2 separate regions of the Homo sapiens genome follow, and region 2 is linked to region 1. The links come from fine-mapping of genetic effects on gene expression. Tissue or cell type: whole blood. Region 1 holds a variant in brackets; the other region holds the start of a gene. All regions are shown on one strand. Distances are from middle to middle. Region 1 has its middle 130 kb from the start of ANGPT1. Region 2 holds the start of ANGPT1 (angiopoietin 1).

The links.
Region 2: ANGPT1 starts here. The variant in region 1 is fine-mapped to the expression of ANGPT1 in whole blood (INTERVAL, PIP above 0.99). The same link has a PIP of 0.9 or more in neutrophils.

What each region holds. Positions count from the first base shown.
Region 1 is chr8:107,626,920-107,637,703 of GRCh38, forward strand. No RefSeq gene overlaps it. Among named protein-coding and RNA genes, the nearest start is that of ANGPT1, 130 kb to the left of the region's middle. The variant A/G (reference allele first, on the strand shown) is at 5,372.
Region 2 is chr8:107,493,061-107,503,844 of GRCh38, forward strand. It overlaps ANGPT1 (angiopoietin 1), which reads right to left and starts at 4,858. Exons shown (of 9, transcript NM_001146.5): 1 at 4,202-4,858. The coding sequence starts at 4,498. RefSeq lists a silencer at 8,357-8,557.

The sequences.
Region 1 (10,784 bases):
CTAAATTATTTGATAATTTACTACTATTATGGGCTGAATCATGTTCCCTTTTACCTACCAAAAATGCAAGCAGACACTAGAAGCTGGAAGATACGAATAACAAATTCAATGTTGAAGTCCTAACTTGCAGTACATCAGAACATGGCTGTATTTGGAGATAGAGGTTTAAAAGAAGCACTATGGTTAATTGAATTCATTGAGGTGGACCCTAATTTGATACTACCAGTGTCCTTATGAGAAGGGATTAAGACACAGATATGCACAGAGAAAAGAAGATTTGAAACAAAGGGAAGGAGGCAACCATCTACATGCCAAAGAGACAGACCAACTCTGCCAACACCCTGATCTTAGACTTCTAGCCTCCAGAGTGGCAAGAAAACAAATTTCCATTGTTTAATCCACCCAGTCTGTGATATTTTATCATGTATGGCAGGCTTATCAAACTAATATATCATTTAATGGGATATTAAGATTAATGTGTCTATAATGATAGCAGAACCCATGGTACTTTTCCTGTTGTCCAAGAATTTGTCTAAAGATTCAGATGAAACTAAACGTGGCACATCTTCTGCCTATAGATCTTCCGATGATTGGGGCCAGGCACCTCCCTTCATGACCTCCTGAGACGTGCCAGTTCAGAGATCTTGGCCAAAAGTTAACCCTCCCCTAGTTAGTTTCACCTACAAGTTAATGTAAGAATGAGACTACAAAAGAGGACGTCAACTTTCAGGGGCAAGTAGTTGTCAGCAGGAGTGGCTTTCCCACTCTGCACCTGATGTGAATGCTATACTTCCTGGTTATCAAGGATGTGAGACCTTCAAATGAATTACTTCTAAAGATAGGAGATGTTATGAGAAGAGGACACCAGAGTTCAACTCCCTAGCAAGCTTCTCAGCCAGCAGAAACAAGCTAACTTGCCAGAAATTTGTAAAAGTTTTTGATTGTTAGGTATTTTCTCTAATACTATCTATCTAATTCCTTATAAAATGTAAATTCAGTTTCCACTTTGACAAACTTTAGATTTGAGTTTCTTAGGCCAATGATCTCCATGTGGACCAGCAGTTTAAGCAGAGCTACTGCTTTTGACCATCATTACACTCTTTATTGCCAGGCAGATTAATTTATAGAAAATTACTTGCAGCTTTTATTGGTGTTTCCTTATCCTTTGACCCTGAAAACAGAGATAGGTCTGAAGATAAACTCTTTGAACCCAGAATAGTTACCTACTGCTTATTATCAAAATGAAAACTAGAACTGCCAGAACAGATTTTCCTTTCATGGTGGTAAAATGTGAATATACTATGAACTCTCCTAATTTTCCTTGTATATTGAAAAGTATCAGAGAGCTGCGTACATAGACATTTTTATCACCCAATCATCTGCCTACATTAAGGCATGTGTGCTAGGCTGAATAACTACCCCGCAATGAAGGCCATATCCTCATTCCTGGAATATGCTATTTTATGCAGCAAAAGGGACTTACAAAACCGGAGATGGGGAAATATCCTGGATCATCCTGGCGGGCCCAGTGTAACTACCATGGTCTTTGCAAAACAAAGACAGAGGGTTAGAATCAGAGAGAGAAAGAGTTCTCTAATAACTGAACCAGAGGTCAGGGTGATGGGCCAGTAAGCAAGAAATGCAACCAGACTCTAGAAGCTGGAAATTTAAGAAATGGATTCTCCTCTAAAGCCTCCAAAAGGATCACAGCTCTGCCAACACCTTGATTTTAGCACCCTAACACTCATTTCAGACTTTCTATCTCTAGAATTGTTAGATAATAAATATGTGTTGTTTAAAGCCACTACATTTGAATTAATTTGTTATAGTAGCAATGTTGTTCTATCAACAAGAAACTAATATAGCATGCCAAAATAAAATGTATAACATTTTCTATTTTTCTTATTGAACTAATATTGTTGAGTATGTTGTTTATGCCATCACACTATGTCTTCTTTTTAGACTTGCACAACAGAAACCCTCTTTGGATGTCAGTACACAAACAACTGTGTCTCCTGAGCTCCCAGAATCTGTGGATTACATTCCTGATTATTCTCTCACATGGGGTCTTCCCTACTAGTATACTTGAATCCAATCCATTCTTAGGAACACTACCTTTATCCCTGGTTCAACTTTGTTTCCTGTTTTGTTTGCTCTTTACCCTTTTTTCATTTATTTATCTTTACTTTCTTATTTTATGCTCTTTTAAGTCATCTCAAATAATTTTTAAAAGATGAGTATAAATGAATAAATCATGAAGCAAATTCTTATGAATCTTTTATTAAGAAAGATCTTCTTTCTGCTTAATTGAAGTCTTTCCCATTGCAAATTAATCTCAGTGAAGCCTGAGCAACATAGAGAGGCCCTGTCTCTACAAAAACTTTAAATAATGATTATGGTGGAATGCACCTATAATCTCAGCTGCTCAGGAGGCTGAGCCGGAGAATCACTTGAGCCTAGGAGTTCGAGGCTGCAGTGAGCGATGAGTGTGTCACTGAACTCCAGCCTTGGTGTCAGAGTGAGACCCTGTCTCTAAAAAATCAATGAAAAGAAAATATAGAGATAAACGGAGGAATTTGGAAGGATGCCATTTTGAAAAAAAGAAGAGTCTAGAGGTTTATTTTACTTTATTTTCAGCTTAGACTAACAAATAACATTTCCATTTTAATGGAGTTCAGAATATGTTTTCCCAAAATATGGCACTTTGGCATTTGAAAAACAGCAGAAGCAGGATGGACATCTCTTTGGCCTTCTCCTGCCATTGTGCCCTGAAGCAGACCATAAAATAATTATCTGACCTTCCTCTAAAGTAGGTCATCATTCTCATTCCAGAGGAGCCCTCCCTCTACCCAGAAAAAAGGAATGAAGACACAGAGAAGAATCTGAACAAACAGGTCTTGCTAAGTTTTACCCAGTTTATTACCGTTGGGTCAGAACTTTTTGTCCTCTAATCATACTTCTGCACAATTGTCCACAAAACTGCACAATTTTCCCTGTTTTTTTTTTTTTTTTTTTTTTTTTTTGGCAGGGGTCTTCATCTCTGAAGGCTTCTATGTCAAGTAAAACTTATACTACATAGATTTGTGTGCTTTTCTCTTGTTAATCTAATTTTTTATTACCAGGGTCTCAGTCATGAATTGAACAATGAATGGATGAGAAAAAAAAAATCTCTTCTCCCCTACAATTTTACAATTATCTTTTTGAGACTAAGTCTCCCTCTGTCACCCAGGCTGGAGTGCAGTGGCACCATCTCAGCTCACTGTGACCTCCACCTCCCAGGTTCAAGTGATTCTGCTGCCTCAGCTTCCCGAGTAGCTGGGACAACAGGCACACACGCCACCACTCCTGGCTAATTTTTTGTATTTTTAGTAGAAACGGGTTTTTGCCATGTTGGCCAGGCTGGTCTCAAACTCCTGACCTCAGGTGATCTACAATATTTTTTTTAATAAAGATTCATCCTGTAAAATCCATTTATTTACACAGCCTCCATTCTGGAAGCAAACTCACTGATAATATGATTTCCCTAATAATGTACATAACAATTCTATTTGTTTTCTACGTAGATGCGTTTATAATTTATAGTTTCCTTTGTGCATGATGATGACAGACTGATATTGGTCCTGTATCCCAAACAGGGATTTAACTAAGATCAAAAATTGGGTTTCAAAAAAAATCCTTTGATTTTTGGCAACAACTGTTCATTCTTTGGCTAAACCCTCGTCTGTAACATTGGCTTCCCATGTTTGAAGGGCTCTTGTATAAGCATGAAGAACTGGCTTTCTCTGCTCTTCACCCAGTGACCCATGACATTGAAACAACCTTTGTCTTCATTGTGACAGAAATGTTCTCATTCAATAGTTGTCACAGAGCACTGTTCATTCAAGGAGTTCCGCTTAGCTGTTACTCTGCAAATACATTTCCTATAGTTGATGCTGATATTGGGGAATTAACCTTTCACACCTCTTTTCCATTTGATCCTACCTGTTGACATTTGTATGCCAAAAAAAGAATATGTCAGTGTCATGAGAAAGAGTAGATATGAAGTTCCAAAGTGCTTGTCTGCCAAGTAGACAGGTTTAGCTGAGGAAGGTGACTGGGAAATGTGTGAAGATCACACCAGACATTGAGATGTATGTTTAGAAACAGGGAAAAAAAAAAAAACCTGATTAGCAAGAAAGCTGGTAGGAGCAAAATCTGGGAAGTGAGCAGATAATAGCAGGTGACAAAGTGGGCCATAAAGTGGTGAATAAAGAAGAACAATTTGCAGAGATGCATGCACCATTCAGCATGAAAACTTAGTAGTCGGTCAAGGAGACAATAGCCTTGACTGGTCGAAGTGGAGTTTGATTTGACTTTTTAGGACTTGTTGTAGAATGAGAATTCCCTTGATCATGTGGGAAAGTAGGGAAGACCAGTGCCCAAGTCACTCATGGAACCTTATAGAGAGAATGAGGGGGCCAGCAAAACAGTAAATTATAACACTGCAGGGCCAGATTACAAAATGTTTGCTCTAGGTAACAAATATCTGTGTTTTCTTATAGAAGGAATAGAGGGTAATGCTTCTAAATCTACGTGTGTATGATGACAGATGTTTATGCTTCCAAATTTATCTACGTATGATGGCATATGTTTTTATTCATCAATATATTGCTCTTTTATTTCTCAGCCCTCTGTGACAATATTTTATTTCTTTCGTTTTGTTTCATATCTGTTTTCCTCAACAGGCTGTTTTCTTGCCCTGGGGGGCAGGAATCAGATTTATTCTGTTGACTATTCAGTATCCAGGCAGCAAGGACAATGCCTGTCACATAATAGGCGTTAAATATATACTTATTAAATAAGTTGATGAATAAATAAATTAGTACATGAATGATAAACTCAATTTTCATGGATGCTTATTGGTGAGTGACTAACTTGTAAAACTATGACCACCCAAAACTAGATTTGGTTTCTATGTTGGCAAAACATCAGTCTATTTGAAACATTCAAATGAGTAATCATGTGTTTGGCTAAATATTTATCACTCTCCAGGAATTAGAGAAATAGGACTTATAGATGCTTTCAGTCTTTTCTGTCTTTGAGTGAGAAAAACCATAAATAGAACTAGAGCCCTGTTTTCACGTTGGGGCTTTTGTTTTATAATTCCTAGAATGCATGGAAACAGTAAAAATACTAAATATTTAAAAAATTAAGAATGTGGATTAATTTTAGGGTTAACTAATAGGTTCAGTCTTTCCTCTATTTGGTTGTTAAGTCTCCGTACTCATACTTTGAGGATGTTTGAATCTATTTGTCACCCCCATCTGTTTACATTTAGATTTGAAAACTAGATAGCACTTGTGTAATACAATGATTCAATTTGGACAGTGCC[A/G]TATTTTAAGGAAGCAGTTTTAAGAAACTTTTTTTTTCTCCACGAAGCTAGGACAACCTCAGTATGTCTAATCTCTAACTTCTTTTCCTGAAAGAGAATCTAAACAAACCCTCTTTTATGGTATATTAGAAAGCAGCACGTTCCTCGTTCACCAAGGATACTTGCTAACATCTCAGGAAAAACAGGTGCCTACGTATAAGGGTCTCCGAGCTCCCAAAGTCCTGCTGAATACATATAATTCCTCTTTCAGAAGGAAAATAACAATACATATAGTTCCTCTTTCAGAAGGAAAATAACAATACATATATTTCCTCTTTCAGAAGGAAAATAACAATACATATAGTTCCTCTTTCAGAAGGAAAATAACAATACATATAGTTCCTCTTTCAGAAGGAAAGTTTTGTGAAAGAATAGCCATTTTGAAACCCAGGAGTAATCAAATATCAGTGGCATGAATAAACATAATTATACCCCCATGAAGAGAAGTTAAGGAAAATAGGGAAAAAGGAAGAATCCTGTAACCATGGAACACTCTACAGTTTTTTTTCTTATTGTTTTGTTTTTTTTTTTTTTTTTTTGGCAATCTAATGCCGATAATTCTCACTATCATTTATTTTCAAGACCATGAAGCTAAACGTCAACTCATTAAATGCTGCATGCATATCTTCTTTTCAGAAATCTTCAATTGATTACAATCAATACATCTTGAAAAGAGCCTTTGGCCAAATCCAAGATTCCTCTGCATAGATTATTGCCTTCAGTGATGGGAACAAAGGGAAAGAAGCCTGCAGAAAAATGTGTCTTCCCTGGAGAAGCAGGCCCTGGAGGGCAATAACCAAGTCAGGAATCAAGGCTGTAATTTTGCAGGCACATGTCTTATTAGATAAATGTGCCTGCTTTTTGTGAATTCTGGAAACTGTTCTCCACTTCATTTATTCTTGGTTTTTCCTTTCTCCCCTAAGAACTTGCCCAAGGGCATGAGTGCCCCCCTCCTGTATCAGCATGACCTGGATGTGAAACATGGAGCCAAAGGAGATTATGTCAGAGCTTTAAGATTTAATTATTGCCTTGTTGGATTTTGGACTTGCATGGGGCCTGCAGCCCCTTTGTTTTGGCCAATTTCTCCCATTTGGAATGGGTGTATTTACCCTATTCCTGTACCTCAATTGTATCTAGGAAGTAACTAACTTGCTTTTGATTTTATAGGCTCATACATGGAAGGAACTTGCCTTGTCTCAGATGAGACTATGAACTTGGACTTCTGGGTTAATGCTGAAATGAGTTAAGACTTTGAGGAACTGTTGGGAAGGCATAATGTGAGAAAGACAAAATTTGGGAGGGGTCAGGGTTGAATAATATACTCTGTGTCCCCACCCTAATCTCATCTTGATTTGTAATCTGAAATGTAATCCCCACATGTTGGGGGAGGGACCTCATGGGAAGTGATTAGATCATGGGGGCAGTTCCCCCATGCTGTTCTCATGATGGTGAGTGAGTTTTCACGAGATCTAATGGTTTTATTAGGGGCTTTTACCCCCTTCACTCCTCTCTCCTGCTGCCATGTGAAGAAAGACATGTTTACTTCCCCTTTTGCCACGATTGTAAGTTTCCTGAGGCCTCCCCAGCCATGCAGAACTGTGAGTCAGAACTGGTTATAAATTACCCAGTCTTGAGTATCTCTTCAAAGCAATGTGAGAACAGACTAATACAGAACTCATATGTATAAATAGTCAAAAAATTAAATATATAAATGAAGCAGCAGCAATGTGGAAAAAAAAAGTGCCAAAAATTGGTATAGTGCTGTCACATCTATTTGTAAATACTCTGGAAATACATAAATATGAGATTACCCTCAGCGAAATAAGTGTTAATATTATTTTGTTCTATTGCCTGGGATACACAGGAACTTTAAACCAAAGGCAAAGATATATTTTCCTACCTTCTCATCTTCAACTCCCGTTAGCTTCAGTTTGGAAGAAAAATGTCTTAAAACTACTTAGCAGCAGGGTATAAAGGAAGAGGTATGTATGTAAATGCATTTTTTGTTTGTTTGTTTTGTTTTTAAAATATGCTTTATTTTTTAGAGCAGGTTTAGTTTCACAGCAAAATTGAGCACAATGTTACAGAAATTTCGCATATACTCCCTGGCTCCACACATGCATAGCCTCCCCAACTACCAAAATTCCACACCAGAATTGTTCATTTCTTACAACCAATAAACCTACATTGACACATCATTATCCCCCAAAGTCCATTACAGTAAGGTTCTCTTGTTGTTGTGGATTCTATGGGTTTGGATGTAAATGGTTTCTTATTTCCTAAAATGCTGAAGAATAATCCATTACCAATATATTTAATAATTCAGTAACTATTAATGAAACCATCATTATTTCATTAAAATGAAGTTGACTGTGATGCAAGAAAAGAGTACTGAATGATATATCTTTGACCGCAAAGATTTTACAACATATTTTAATAAAACAGGAAGTGACAATATAAAATAAAAAATTCTTAACCAAGTGCTTTTTTGAGTGACTTTTACCTGCAAGATGATATCTTAGAATCATTACTATAAACTAGTGGTTGGGAATAGCGGGAGGGATAAATATAATTCAGATGTGCATTCTGCCCAAAGAGCTTAAAGTTTAGTCAAAAAAATATGACATGCATCTAAACAGTTATAATTGAAAGATAAAAGTGACAAAAATATGTGACTGAGAATTGTGAGAATATAAAGAATTATTGGAACTAACAGAAGGGAGAGATTTACTTCAGCTAATCTGATATTGCCTAAATGGGAGAGGTGGTTTATTAACAGGTTCTGAACAAAGGCTGAATATTTATTCATGAAGAGAAGAAGTAAGCAAAGTCACAGAGTCTGGGAAATGTGGAAAATGGCCGTTTATTCATTCCATCAATTCAGCCTCTATTTATGTGTCTATCCAGCACCTACAAGAAGCCAGCCACTGTTGTTGGTGTCGGAGACACAACAGTAAATATAACAGACAAAAATCCTGTCCTTGAGGAACTTACTATTGTGTGGAAGCAAAGTTTAAGTTTGGTCTAAGTGAAGTGGACTTTTTAAAAATGCAGGGGCAGGGAGGGGAGGCAGAAAATGTTCGGGTGGGTAGAATAAGGCTAAGTCATAGAAAGTCTTGAAGGTTAAGCCAGAAAGTCCAAGTTTTGTTGTTTACATAAAGCTAAGCCACTAAAGCTTTTTGAGTAGCAAAATATCGTCATCAAATCTGTACTTCTGGAAGACTAATTAGGCAGCTAATTTGTAAGATGAAGCCAAGATGATTCAGGTAGATAGACAGTGCAGCAGCTCTGCAAAGAAATAACACAGACAAGCAAGTCAGGGGAGAGAGATCAGGTGCTGGAGAGGATATATGTGTCTCTAGCTGTGAAGTTAAGGACACAAAAAGCCTGTTTTCCAAAGAAGGCAAGAAAGTGCCTGGCCAGCACTTCATAATGCGGTTTTGCCCAGGAAAGATTAAGTTTGCAAAACATTCACCCTTTCCTCTGGCAGGTTAATTCTCTTTGAAGTGGTCAGTTAACGGATCTTTACCCCTTTACAGGCATTTCCTTTTGCCGAAAGCAGTGACTACTGAGGTAGAAATGCATTGGCTCCAGAGAATTGAAATGGACCTCCCATCATTAAAGTCTTTATTCTCGAAGGAACACTGAGGATTGAGGAGAAAGGGGCCTTTTTGTTCGGGTTTAATTCTATTGCCTCCCTTGCTACTCATCTGTTTAGCAAATGAAGAGAGAAATTAATGATGATGATGAATGAATAGCGGAGGGAAATGGGTAGGCATTGTAAAGTTAGGCCAATTCACAATCGTCACCAAAATGAGCTTGATGCTTATTTTCCTAGTCTTTAGACCTCTGCCTTTATCCTTGGTTTTTCTTTATTTTTCTGTTATTCCCAAACACACCAATGTACAAAGTGAGTCTGCGGCCAGCTCACAATGAAAGGAGTAAAGAGCTGTCTATTAAATTCCCAGCTGTGATCTGCAGAAACTGAGACTTTCAAATATTACCCACAAGATAGATGACAAAAGTGACAGATAAATATAAGCATCTCAAAATCCCAGGATAAAACACAGATTAACAGTACTCACAACAAAATTTTGAGCACACAAAAAAGTTGGAAAATGGAAAACACACCTATACACACAAATGTACTCATGCAAACATGCAATACACACCACACACACATATAATACAAGATATATCCCCTGGGTGATACTGAAAAATAAAGAATTTAATTAACACCTAAATACTTTTTATGATCTCTCCCACTCCTGTCCCTACCCAGCTACACACACACACACACACACACACACACACACACACACATTTTTTAATCCCTCCTTTTAAAGCCTTAGTCTTCTAAAAATAAGAAAAAAATGAGTAATAGGCTCTGAAGATCTGCAATCCTGTGTACGAATTCAATTTCACCACTTGCATTCTATTTCACTGGACTTTCTACTTAAATTTTCTGAGCCTCAGTGTTCTCATCTGTGAACAGGACAAATAAGAGTACCTACTTCAAGGTTCTAGCATGTATTCAATGAGATCATGCAGATAATTGATTACAGTGCTCAGTAATTAATAAACAATAAATGGTATTTATCAATGTTTATTTTATATTCATTGTTATTATTATTAAACCTTTTAAATTAAGGAAACCATATGAATAAAACACAATTTTTTGGGACATATAATGCAGTTGAAAACTCAATGAGTGCTAGCAGGTCTTGAAAGTGCAAACTCACTTAAAACCCAGGTGTCCTGGGTCAGCTACTATCACCTCTAAGAAGAGAGAGAGCCTTACAACTCCCAAACTTAAAATAGCTCTGAAGTGTTGGCAAAGATATCCTTGTTGTGAAAGTTCATAAAGTCCCCTTTGTGAATTTCACTCCCCAAGTGTTAACTGACAAACAGCATGCAACACTTGACAGTCCCCTTCAAAAGCAGCTTAGAAGAAAGCGCCTGAAATACGGAGAATTTGGCTGCTCATTATAGACACCACTTTGGCAAACATCATGTTGAGGCATCAAAGCTTTTCAAACATTGGAGGACCTAACTCAGACTCGGATAAGCAAAGCTGATAAACAAATTGTCCCCGATTCCGGAGTACATCTGTGTAATACAATTGTTCCTACCAGCTGAAACTATAGGTTTTATATAATTTAATTTAAATTGTCCAAACAGAAAACTATCTTTTAAAGTTCTATGTGGTTTCTTTTACTCCTGGCTTTTGTGGAGTAGCAAACGCGAGGATGATTGTCACTGGCAGATCCTCATCCCTCCCTCATGTGGAAGCCCTTTTTTCACTGAGGATTCACGGATGCTTCATTGATGCTTTCTTAGAAGTTTCTGAACTTCCCAGCCTATTTAAGTAGTC
Region 2 (10,784 bases), 130 kb before region 1:
TCCCTTAATTTTCACTATTTTATAGTTACCACTATACACTTGAGCACTTGATTTCTTAAAAACTGATTATTACAATAACAAAAAATTAATCCAGACCCTTAATGAACATGTTCAGAGGTATAAAAATGGATAAGCGACATTTACTACACTTGAGGAACTCACAGTCTAGGTGGGAAAACAAGCCTAGAAACAAACAATTAAAACAACCACCACAACAACTTTGAACTACAGCATTAACATGATACAGTCAATGTACTGTGATGACATTTGAGAACTCAGCCTGGGAGGGTAAGTGGAGTGTGGGTAGATTTCCTGGAGAAACTGGCAACAGAGCTGACCCTTAAAGAATAATTAAGAAGATGAATTGGAGTGACTAGAGAAGTTTTTGAGATTCTAGATTACTGGTTAAATATAATTTGAATAATTAATAACCACCTACTCTGGACCCAATATTGTTTTAACTAGTATTAGGACAAAAATAACCATAGGTTATAGTCCTTGCCTATAGGACAACTTACAATCTATTGAAGAGGTAAGGTGTATACCTCGAATAAAATGCTGACAGTAGACAGTAAAGTGCAGAATGCAATAGATAATGCATTCATTTTTTCATTTAACACATATTTATTGCATATCTGTTATAAATATGTTATATACTCTTCTGGGAACTGAGGTTATGACATTGGACAAACACACATGGTCACTGGCCTCATGGAGGTCACATTCTAATGGATATTAATAGGGATTAATATATATGTAATATATGGGTTTAAAAAAATCGTCATCATCAATGTGTTTTGGGTAATAGCATTTCAAATCTTAACTCTGAAGAAAAGAATACAATATGCAAATAGGGGACATCCTTAACCAAAAAATGTTGTCAATAGAAAAACAGCTAAATAGTCCAGTAAAATCTTTGTATTTCTTAAAATATTCTGGATGGCAATTCATAACTATATTTTCCATTAATAGTCATCAATTTTAGCTAGTGTAAAATATGTATAGCAAATAGACTATTGTTTTCTGTTACAAGGCATTATTGACTCAATTTATTTAAACTTTTAACAAAAAAAGACATCATTTGGCAAAAGCAAAACAGATCTTCTAAGGATTCCCCAAATCTTAGAACATTATACATATTTAAATCTAAATATTTTAAATGTACATCTTTGTGAACTTTTTGAGATGTGGGAGACAGAAAACAATAGTTCACAAAGTACAGGATGTGGGCTAAATGTTTCACTGTCATAGAGAGGTAGGGAGAGATCATAAGAAAGTGACAAAGACACAGAGGCCAGCTGTATTTATCATTACTTATCTAAGAGCTGGTCACTCTCAGGTATTTACTATGACTTGCTAATAATTCCAAAAAGAGCTGTATTACAGAAGAGATCAAACCAGAAACACACCCAGGTGTTTCACAAAATAAAACTATGATGTTAGGCATATTATTCACACCACCCTTCCTGGTCTGAGATGTCACAATAATGCTATCAACCTACCTCATTTTAATCGACAAGTGATTATGGAAAGTTGATTTCTTTGAATTAAATCCATCACATCAAGAAAGCAGTGCCATAACAGTTCCAGTATTTATGGTGACCCACAAATCATTTGCCCCCTTGCATGCCTTGCTTCTCATCCTGTTCAGTTGCAAGACCAGAAAAGTTGAGGAAGGAGGTTTCCCTTCATGGAAGGTGATGGATTAACATAATTATCATATAGCTTCATTTAGAGTTGATAACACATCTATTCTGCCTCAAAACCTTTCCTGATAGCGATGCCATGAGCTGCATAATAATCACTATGCTTTGATTAATTATTTTGCCAAATAAATGGATAAATTAATTTCACCTACATACACTGATAGCCTCAGTTTCTGCAGGGTGTTGCTTCTTCCTATGGCAACTACTTGGAATCAAAATAGAAGTAATACAAATTGCAGTACTGAGCATACCAAATGGTTACAGTAAAAAGATTTCCATTTCAATTATCAGAATAAAAATATCACATGAAGTTTAGAACTTGGAGTGAAGAAAACTCCTAATTAAGGGAAACTTATGAAAGCCTTTAGCAAGTTCTTTGCTGAATGCATTTTTTGGTTTCTTGATCCTCCAACCAATCACATTGACAATGACAAAAGATATGCAAATTTAAACTGACAATAGTCAAGCCACATTGCTCTGACTCATACCAATAGGGACGTTTTCAGCATATATTCAGCTTGATTTTTACACTTGAAAGGGTGAATGTAACCAAAGAACATTTTAATAGTTATTCTTGGCTATAATCTGAAAGCTATCCCATAATCATTGACCAAGAACAATGCAAACAAGAATCAAATTTATTTTGCAAAATAAATTAACATATGAAACACGTGCATGATTTAAGCCCAGCAGAATTATGTGTTTACCCTGTCACTGCTGAATAATTGCATAGCAACAAGAAATATGCATTACTATGTTTGAATCACTATTGTGATTATACGCTTTAAGCAAACAAAACATTACGTTTTTGGTAGAATAGATCATTCAGGATAACTTGGGACTAAATTTTCCTTCCCGTTCCCTCAAAGAATCCAGACTAATATGTAATGATTGAATTCTCACTAAAAACTATACGGATGGTGTACTGAAGAATAATAACAAGCTGTTCAACCAAAATCATTTGTTTACAATGGAAATAAATTTTACCAAAGAAAAATACAAACATCCTATTATAAACTACTACTGAAAGTAATGCATAAAATTTCAGCTACAATTGTAAAAAACCTGAGAGTTCTGTTTGCTTTTTATTCTTCTGCCTACCTACTGATTGCCTATTACAGTCCTATAGTCTGTAATAGAAAGATTACAATATCAGCTTTGGAAACTGTAGAACTACTAAGTTCCAGTTAATGTGTCAAATAAAATAACAGTGATCTTAGTTCAGTCCCTAGTGGACAAAAGTAGAATAACTATTACTTGGCATGATTCAGCAGGCAATGACCTAAGTGAGTGTGACCACACAGGAACAAAATAGAGCATTTGTCCTTTCCCTATCTTTTATCTTTTTAAAGGGATTGCCCGGTTAACAGACTAACTTAAAGAAGCCTGATTGCATACCTATCTACATGTACCAAGTGAATCCATTAACAAGGGAGAGAAGCTTTTCACAAATTGAGACATTGCCTCCCTTCTAGTAGCATAGTCAGTTGAATATACTTATTCTCGGCTGCCTATTATTAAACAGAGTGCAAAGACAGAATGAATTGCAGAAGTGTGTTCATAATTTAATAGGCTTATCTTCAACAAAAACTTAAATGGTTTGTAGATAAATAACTGGATAAACTATTCGATTTGATTTCTATAAATTGAGATTACATTCATACTCAACATTAACATTCATCAAATAACATGGATACTTAAACTCGCCAGGTACTGTCTCTAACTACAATGCCCTGAGAAGGGAGGTATTTCAGGAATATAGTAGACTACATGCTGCGTTCAGCCCATATCTGCAGGTGCATGTCTTCCTCAACAGCCAGCATGCCCTCATCGTGAGCGAGCAACCCCTTTCCGACAGTTAACATTACAATGTATCTTTTTAATTTTTTTTCTCAAGGACAGAAGAAAAAAATATTTAACAGAAATCAGTCTACTATTCTACCACTTGCTGAAACTAACAGTTCCCTTTACATAAATATACAATTTCTCCAACCAAATATCATATTTTATATTTACTCTCACTTCATGTTAATTTTTATAAAGGTTAAAAAAACAAATACTTTGTGATGATTTGCCACCCCAGCGGCACAAAATTTTCTGGTGCAAAATCGATTTGATCTTATTAATTAATATTGTCATTATTATTTATTTTTCACCAACTTGCTTAAGAGGTACATACTTTCTTTCTTAAGGTAGTGTTTTGACAGAGAGAACCTTAATGCTGAACTTTAGAAAAGAGAAACCAAAAATGTCATAAAATTTGCCAGGGCTAGACACACAAACGGGGTGCCCCCACACATTCATAGGTTTGGGCAAGCCCCCAAACCTTGGCTTACCCAGGAAGCCAAACCCAGACAGCCGTCTTGCAATTGCAAACACTGCCCCCCTGGAGCAAAAGGTAAATACACAAATGCTCCCCTAAGGAACTTTAAGTTAGCTGCAGTGCAAGAAAGGAAAAAGGTCCGTGCTATTAGAAACTGAAAGCAATCACTTACTTTTTGCAGCCACTGAGTATAATTTTCCATCACATGTTCCAGATGTTGAAGTTTCTGGGAAGAGAAATCCGGTTCCACGTGTGGAGCATCTCTCTGCAGAGCGTTTGTGTTGTACTGGTCTGTCGTACTCTCACGACAGTTGCCATCGTGTTCTGGAAGAATGAAAGTGTAGGCACATTGCCCATGTTGAATCCGGTTATATCTTCTCCCACTGTTTTCTGGACTTCGGCGCTGATTGCTGCACCCTATGTGAGTCAGAATGGCAGCGAGGAAAGCAAAGGAAAGGAAAACTGTCATTGTACTGCCAGCACACTCCTTCCGTGCCTCTCGCAAAACTTGCTCCTTTCTTCTGACCTCTAAAACTAGTTCTTTATTTCAGGTAAAACTGCTTGTTTGTTTGACTCTTTCCCCCTCAAAGAAAGCGTTTGAAGAAGAATCATAGAAAACTAGCCATTTGTTAGCTTTGTTCTAAAATTTTAAAATTTTTTATTTCACTGCAATGATGTTTTTCTTCGTTAAAACTTGAGATATTTATTGCATAGTAGCTGAGATTTATTGTTTCCTCTCTGTGTGACCGTTCAGCATGGAGCCTGCCTGAGTCAGCTGCGTGTACATATTCTAGACCCTTTCCTCTACCCTATCTGCTGCAGATCTGCTATTTTCTCCCAGACCTCAGTGAGTTTTATTAAGGTTGCACATCCAAGCCAAGCTGGAAGCAGGCAGCCTTTCACAAGATGACTTGACAGGAATGCATGAGTGTGCCCCTATACTAAGGATTGCTGATGGCTTAGGGCGGCGGGATCGTCTTACAAATTGGCTAGATGCGCATGACCTCGATCATGTATGGCCCTCCCGCCCCTTTCCACAGACAATTGCCTTGAGCCTTTAGCAGATTCATGGCAAATCAATAAATAGAGCAGTCCACCTTAATACACTTTTGGTGTGCATGCTGACCTACTAAAATATAGCAAACTAGCAGTATGTTTTTAAAGTTACTATTTAGTCGAGGGACCCTAAGAAGAAAATTGGCATAATGTCCAATGGAATTATTTTTGATAGAGAATGATAAACCCATATCATTATTAAATGTCTTTAAAAAACATGTATTCTTGACTCTGAGGAAAAATATGTTAAAAAACAGTTTTTACAGATGGTATTCTTTCATTGTATTCACTTAGACTTTTAGGAGTTGAAGAAAATAATCAGAGAGGATCAAATTAGCAAGAAAATTAGCATCATTTGTTGCTCAAAGCAATATGTTGCACAAAGCAATATAGTATGTGCATATTAAAGAGGGTTATCTAAGTACCTTTTGGTATAGGGTTCTTAAATGAAACTGGTGTCCTGATCAGAATGCAACCCTTCATGTTCTGTGTATATAAATTGAGCAACTTCCCTACAAAAACAATGTGGCTACAATTTAAAGCAGTGGCTTGAGAATTATTAATTCCTGTGGTATATCCTAATCCTGTATTTTACAAGGATCTCTTTGGTGGCTATGGCTGTCTTTAACACTGGTGTGGAAGTTCCACATAAAAACCTCCTGTGGCTGCACAGACATACTATGTGAGAACAAGCATATATCAGGTGTGCTAACAGCCAGCAATGGGCTGTACAGGAGACATCTCTGTGCTTCTGTGAAGGAAGAAAGAAAAATTATCAGAAGATGATTTCCCACAGGCAGCGTATAAACATTTGAACAAAGGGACCCATAAACATAAACAGGCAATAATTGTAGAATTTAGGGAACGGCTTTGAGATCTTTACTAGATGCAGAAAACCTGAATTATGAGTTGGGATTTTCATTAGGAACTGGGAGGGCTTTTAGACAACTGCAGTCATGGTGTGAAAACAGAAGCCACAGCTGTCATCTCCCATGTCTTGGAAGGAGAACAGGGCAGTGGGTGAAGGTCCGTAGTGGTTAGAGATGGGCATTTAGGGAGAAGTTAGAGGAGAGGTCAAAACAAATTCCAGAACAAATGCGATTTACTTGGGGAAAGAAACCTTGCCGAGATTCATCAGTCCTTTCCACACCAAATAACAAATTTCTGATTGGACAGATATGGAAGCAAGTTATGCCAAACACAGCAATAAAATATTTGAACCACTTTTGCAGCCTCTTGAACTTTTGCGTGTCTCCTCATTGAGTCATGTATCACTCCTGTGCAACAATAATAATGGCATGCATTAAGACCTTACTGTTTTCCAGGCGAAGCACTCCTTACACACTATCTCACTTAATCATTCCAACAAACCTAAGATCACGGATATCATCCGTTTAACCCCATTTTATCAATGGGAAGACTGAGTCACAGAAAGGCTAACAGGATGTAATTCACAGAGCTGGCAAGTGATGGCGCCAGTATGTGAACTCAGGCAAACTGACTCAGAGCCTGTTTCAAACCACCAGGCCAGCCTGCTTTTGGAAATCTCTGCAAGGAATGAAAGCAATTTCAAAAGCGCTCCAGCTGCATTGATTTACAGTCCTAAACCAGGAGAAGTGACGTACCTAGAAGAAAAAGCACTGTTAAAACCAGAGTATCTCTCCAAAGTGATTCAGGCCTTTTCCAGCACACGCGTGCGCGCGCACACGCACACACGCACACACGCACACACACAGTGACAGGTAACCTATGCACAGCCACAAAGATGAAGTGCACTGGCAAAATGCAGGTTGTCTAAGAACACTTTCCAATAATGCTTGATTTGAAAATTATCCATGGAAAGAAGAGAGTCCAAACCCGACACCTAGAAGTGTTTTGCGAAGAACTAAATACAGCAGAAAATTGGCAGAAGACTAATGGATGAGTGGTGAGGTTTCTATTAAAGTGCTCCTGTGTTTTTAAATAGCCGAGACTGTTAAAAATCTGTTCCTCCACGTGTGTGTCTGTGTACGTCTCTGTGTCCTTATCCATGTGAATTTTCGCAATTAGAATAAATGAAAAGCAGGAATGCACAATTTCCTGAGGGAAAAGTAGACACTAAGAAAGAGAAGCCTGAAATGCAAATAAAAAAGGAGGGGTCGAGGGACAAAGAGACAGAGAAAAATGTAGAGACTGATTTATTTCTTTTGCAGAAAAACAAAATCAACCTTAAACCATAACACTGGAAGTACTAGTGTCATTCTGAAAAAAAATGTCTGAAGATGAATTTTAAGTAATTAGAAAACACAAGGATGTGCAGAATTGACTCCGGTGTTTTTGGAACTCCAGTTAAGGAGACTGTAGGTACATTTAAGGATCCTGACACACTAAAGATAATATGTCTTTGGGATCATGCATCTAAGCAACAGCAACACTGTTGTGTGTTGCTGATTATTCAGAAATGGGGCAGAATTCAGGATGCATTAAAATTTAGGGAGTAGGGCTGGGTTCAGTGGCTCATGCCTGTAATCCCAGCACTTTGGGAGGCCGAAGTGGGAGGATCGTTGGAGACTAGGATTTTGAGTACAGCCTGGGCAGCATAGGGTGACCCTCCCTGTCTCTACCCAAGATAAAATAAAATAAAAATTAGCCAGGTGTGGTGGCACGCCCAGGACCTGTGGTCCCAGCTACTCAGGAAGCTGAGGTGAGAGAATCGCTTGAGTCCAGGGGGTTGAGGCTGCAGTGAGCCATGATTGCCACTGCACTCCAGCCTGGATGACAGAGTGAGACCCTTTCTAAATAATAATAATAATAATAAGCGAGTAATAAGAACAAGCCAATTAAAATTCATCTACCACACCTCCATGAAGGATAAAATATTTATAAAGAACTAAACAATTCTGTTCAATTGAATTCTGTGGTAGCTTGAACCCAAAAGCTTTGTGTTTTATTAGAGATCTGGAATAAGGAAGTGTAGGCTTTAAGGTTTTGATCTCATATTTACAAAGAGTCCTAGTAAATGTCCCACTTAGTCTGAAATTTCCAAAGGGACCAAGAGCCATTTATACCAGAACTTAATGTGCCTAAATCTATCCTAAGAAACAGTCTTTGATAATTCTTTGGTAAAGCTTTCTTAATTTCTCCAGGTCCAATAAATGCTCTCTGTGTTAAATTTCAATAACCTTCTCCTCATGTCTCCAAAACTGCACTGCTCACGTTGCTTGCTAATTGTTGCCTTTTTTTTTATCTGTCTCTTGCTTTTGCTGTGAGCTGCTAAAGTGATCTTCTCTTTGTCATCATTGATTCCTCAACATTCACTATGCACTTTGTCTGAAGGAATGAAAGAATAAGCAAATAAATGAATGAGCTGATTAATGACTCAGTTGATGCAACTTCCTGACTCTCTATCTGGTTACTACATGACTGGCCACATTCATTGCATTTGTTGGGTGAGTTTGCCTAGAATCCCTAGGCATGAAGAACTGAGGATAAAGCCAAACTTATTCTAAAGAATGAGTTAGACGCAAGAGCAAAGTACAATAATAATTCATAGTATTTTTTAACACTTAACAAATAATTTTCTCATCTAATGTTTACAGAACCCCCATAATTATGTAATATTATATATTATTATTCCCATTTTGCTGATGAGAAATGTGGAGCCATAGAGATTAATCGCCCAGGATCTATGATCTCTTAGGAGGCAGAACAGGAATTTGATCCTCAATCCATCTAACTGTGAGGCTCACATTCATTTCCCACTGAGCTATATTGTTTATGACAATACTTCAGTATTGAGAAAATATTTCTTATAATTTAGGGAACAAGAACAACATGGTGACTTCCCCCTTCAGAGGTCCCTTTCCTCTGAAACCCAGGGCTTTCACAGATTCATGTTATGATCTTCCAAAACAGGGATAATATTAAATCAGGATGCACCAGTATGGTAAGATATGCTTACCAACAGCCAATCTGATTAATCGGATTATACTTTAGAAATATTCTAAATGGTTGGTCCTATGCCATGTCATCTGTTAGATATCTTGATCATCACTCCTGCTCTACAATAAAATCAAAATATATGAAAAAAAATAGTATTTATTTCTCAAAAATACCACCAGGCAATGAGATTCAAGGAAATAGTCCTCTGGTATTTATACAACCACTTATAGGGGAAAAAGGGGTGGGAAAGTATTCTCCTACTTTGTGTTCTGAACACAATGTGATTCACCACACCAAGGGTGCCATATTCTGTGACTCTGCTCAGGCACTTTTAGGGATCAAGACTATCATCAGGCCTATAGAAGTGGCAGCTCTATCTAAAAGGAGGGAGGGCACTTGGCTGTAGCTCCTGGAAGCAGAGCCAAGACACCTTCACTCAACTATGTAGGCAGCAAAGGTATCCACAACAGTTGGAAATATCACAGGGGACAAAACCAAAAACAGAAGAAGATGGAGGATATCATCTGGTAACTGAAGGCACTTCATGAGTACATGCAAAATATCCATTTAGAACTCCCAGAATAACTGGGAGGATGCTACAAAAAGCTGGAAACACTGCAGCAAGTGGGATGAGGACTGGAGGCATATAGATAAGTGAGGAAAATAAAAATTATCATATAAATATTCCTCTGTCTTTTGATGACAGAAATTTCTGGTAATTGTTAGGTATCTTGTTTGTTAAGTAGGTTTAATTTAATTTTATTTTTGAGACAGGGTCTCGCTTTGTCACCCAGGCTGGAGTGCGGTGGCATGATCTCAGCTCACTGTAGCCTCTGCCTCTGAGGCTCAAGTGATCCTTCCACCTCAGCCTCCCTAGTAGCTGGGACTACAGGCATGCACCATCGTACCCGGCTAATTTTTGTATTATTTTGTAGAGATGGAGTTTCACCATGTTCCCCAGGCTGGTCTCGAATTCCTGGACTCAAGCAAACCACCAGCCTCGGCCTCCCCAACTGCTGGGATTACAGGCGTAAGCCACCAGGCTCAGCCTGTTAAGTTGGTTTTAAACTATAGATATACAAGGTGGAAACCGCTGAGACTGAATTAATTTGCTCTACCTAAGAAAGGAGAGAAGGGATTAAGAGACTCAGGAAAAGATCTAGAAGTGGAGGACTGGAGCTAGAGAGGTTTAGAGATTCTGTGTCAGGCAGAGCTGCTGAAAGAGAGAGGAGGCTTGTGGCTGTGTGGCCATGAGAGACTTGGGAAGATATATCAAGTAAGGAGATTTGGAGTGAAATAATGTTTCCAGTGAGATCAAATTTGTCTTATCTGTTTCAGTAAAATATATACTTTGGGGCAAATGACTTCTTAAAGGTGAATAAGAGGAATTGAAGAATTGGTCTTTGCTTCAAGCATGGGAACAGCTAACATATGGATTACACAGACTATTAATGTGAATGCAATTGAAGTCATTTGTTTCAGGTTTGTTTTTCACACTAGATCAGAGTCCCAAATGCTAGAACTGTGTCTGTCTTATTGATCTGTCTGTCCCCTTTTCCTGGCACAGAGGATGAACTTTATAAATATCCAGCTGACTGTCTGATTCATTCACCTTAAATCTCAATGATGAGATGTGAAGACACAGAGCCAGTCCCTTACAAGTTTTCAGGTGCTAGACTTGCATAGGCCCTAGAGATCTCACTTTGTGGTGAGTCATAGAAGGCACCCAGAGTCCATAGATTCCAAAAGTCAATCCCAGCAGTGGTAGTGGAATAATA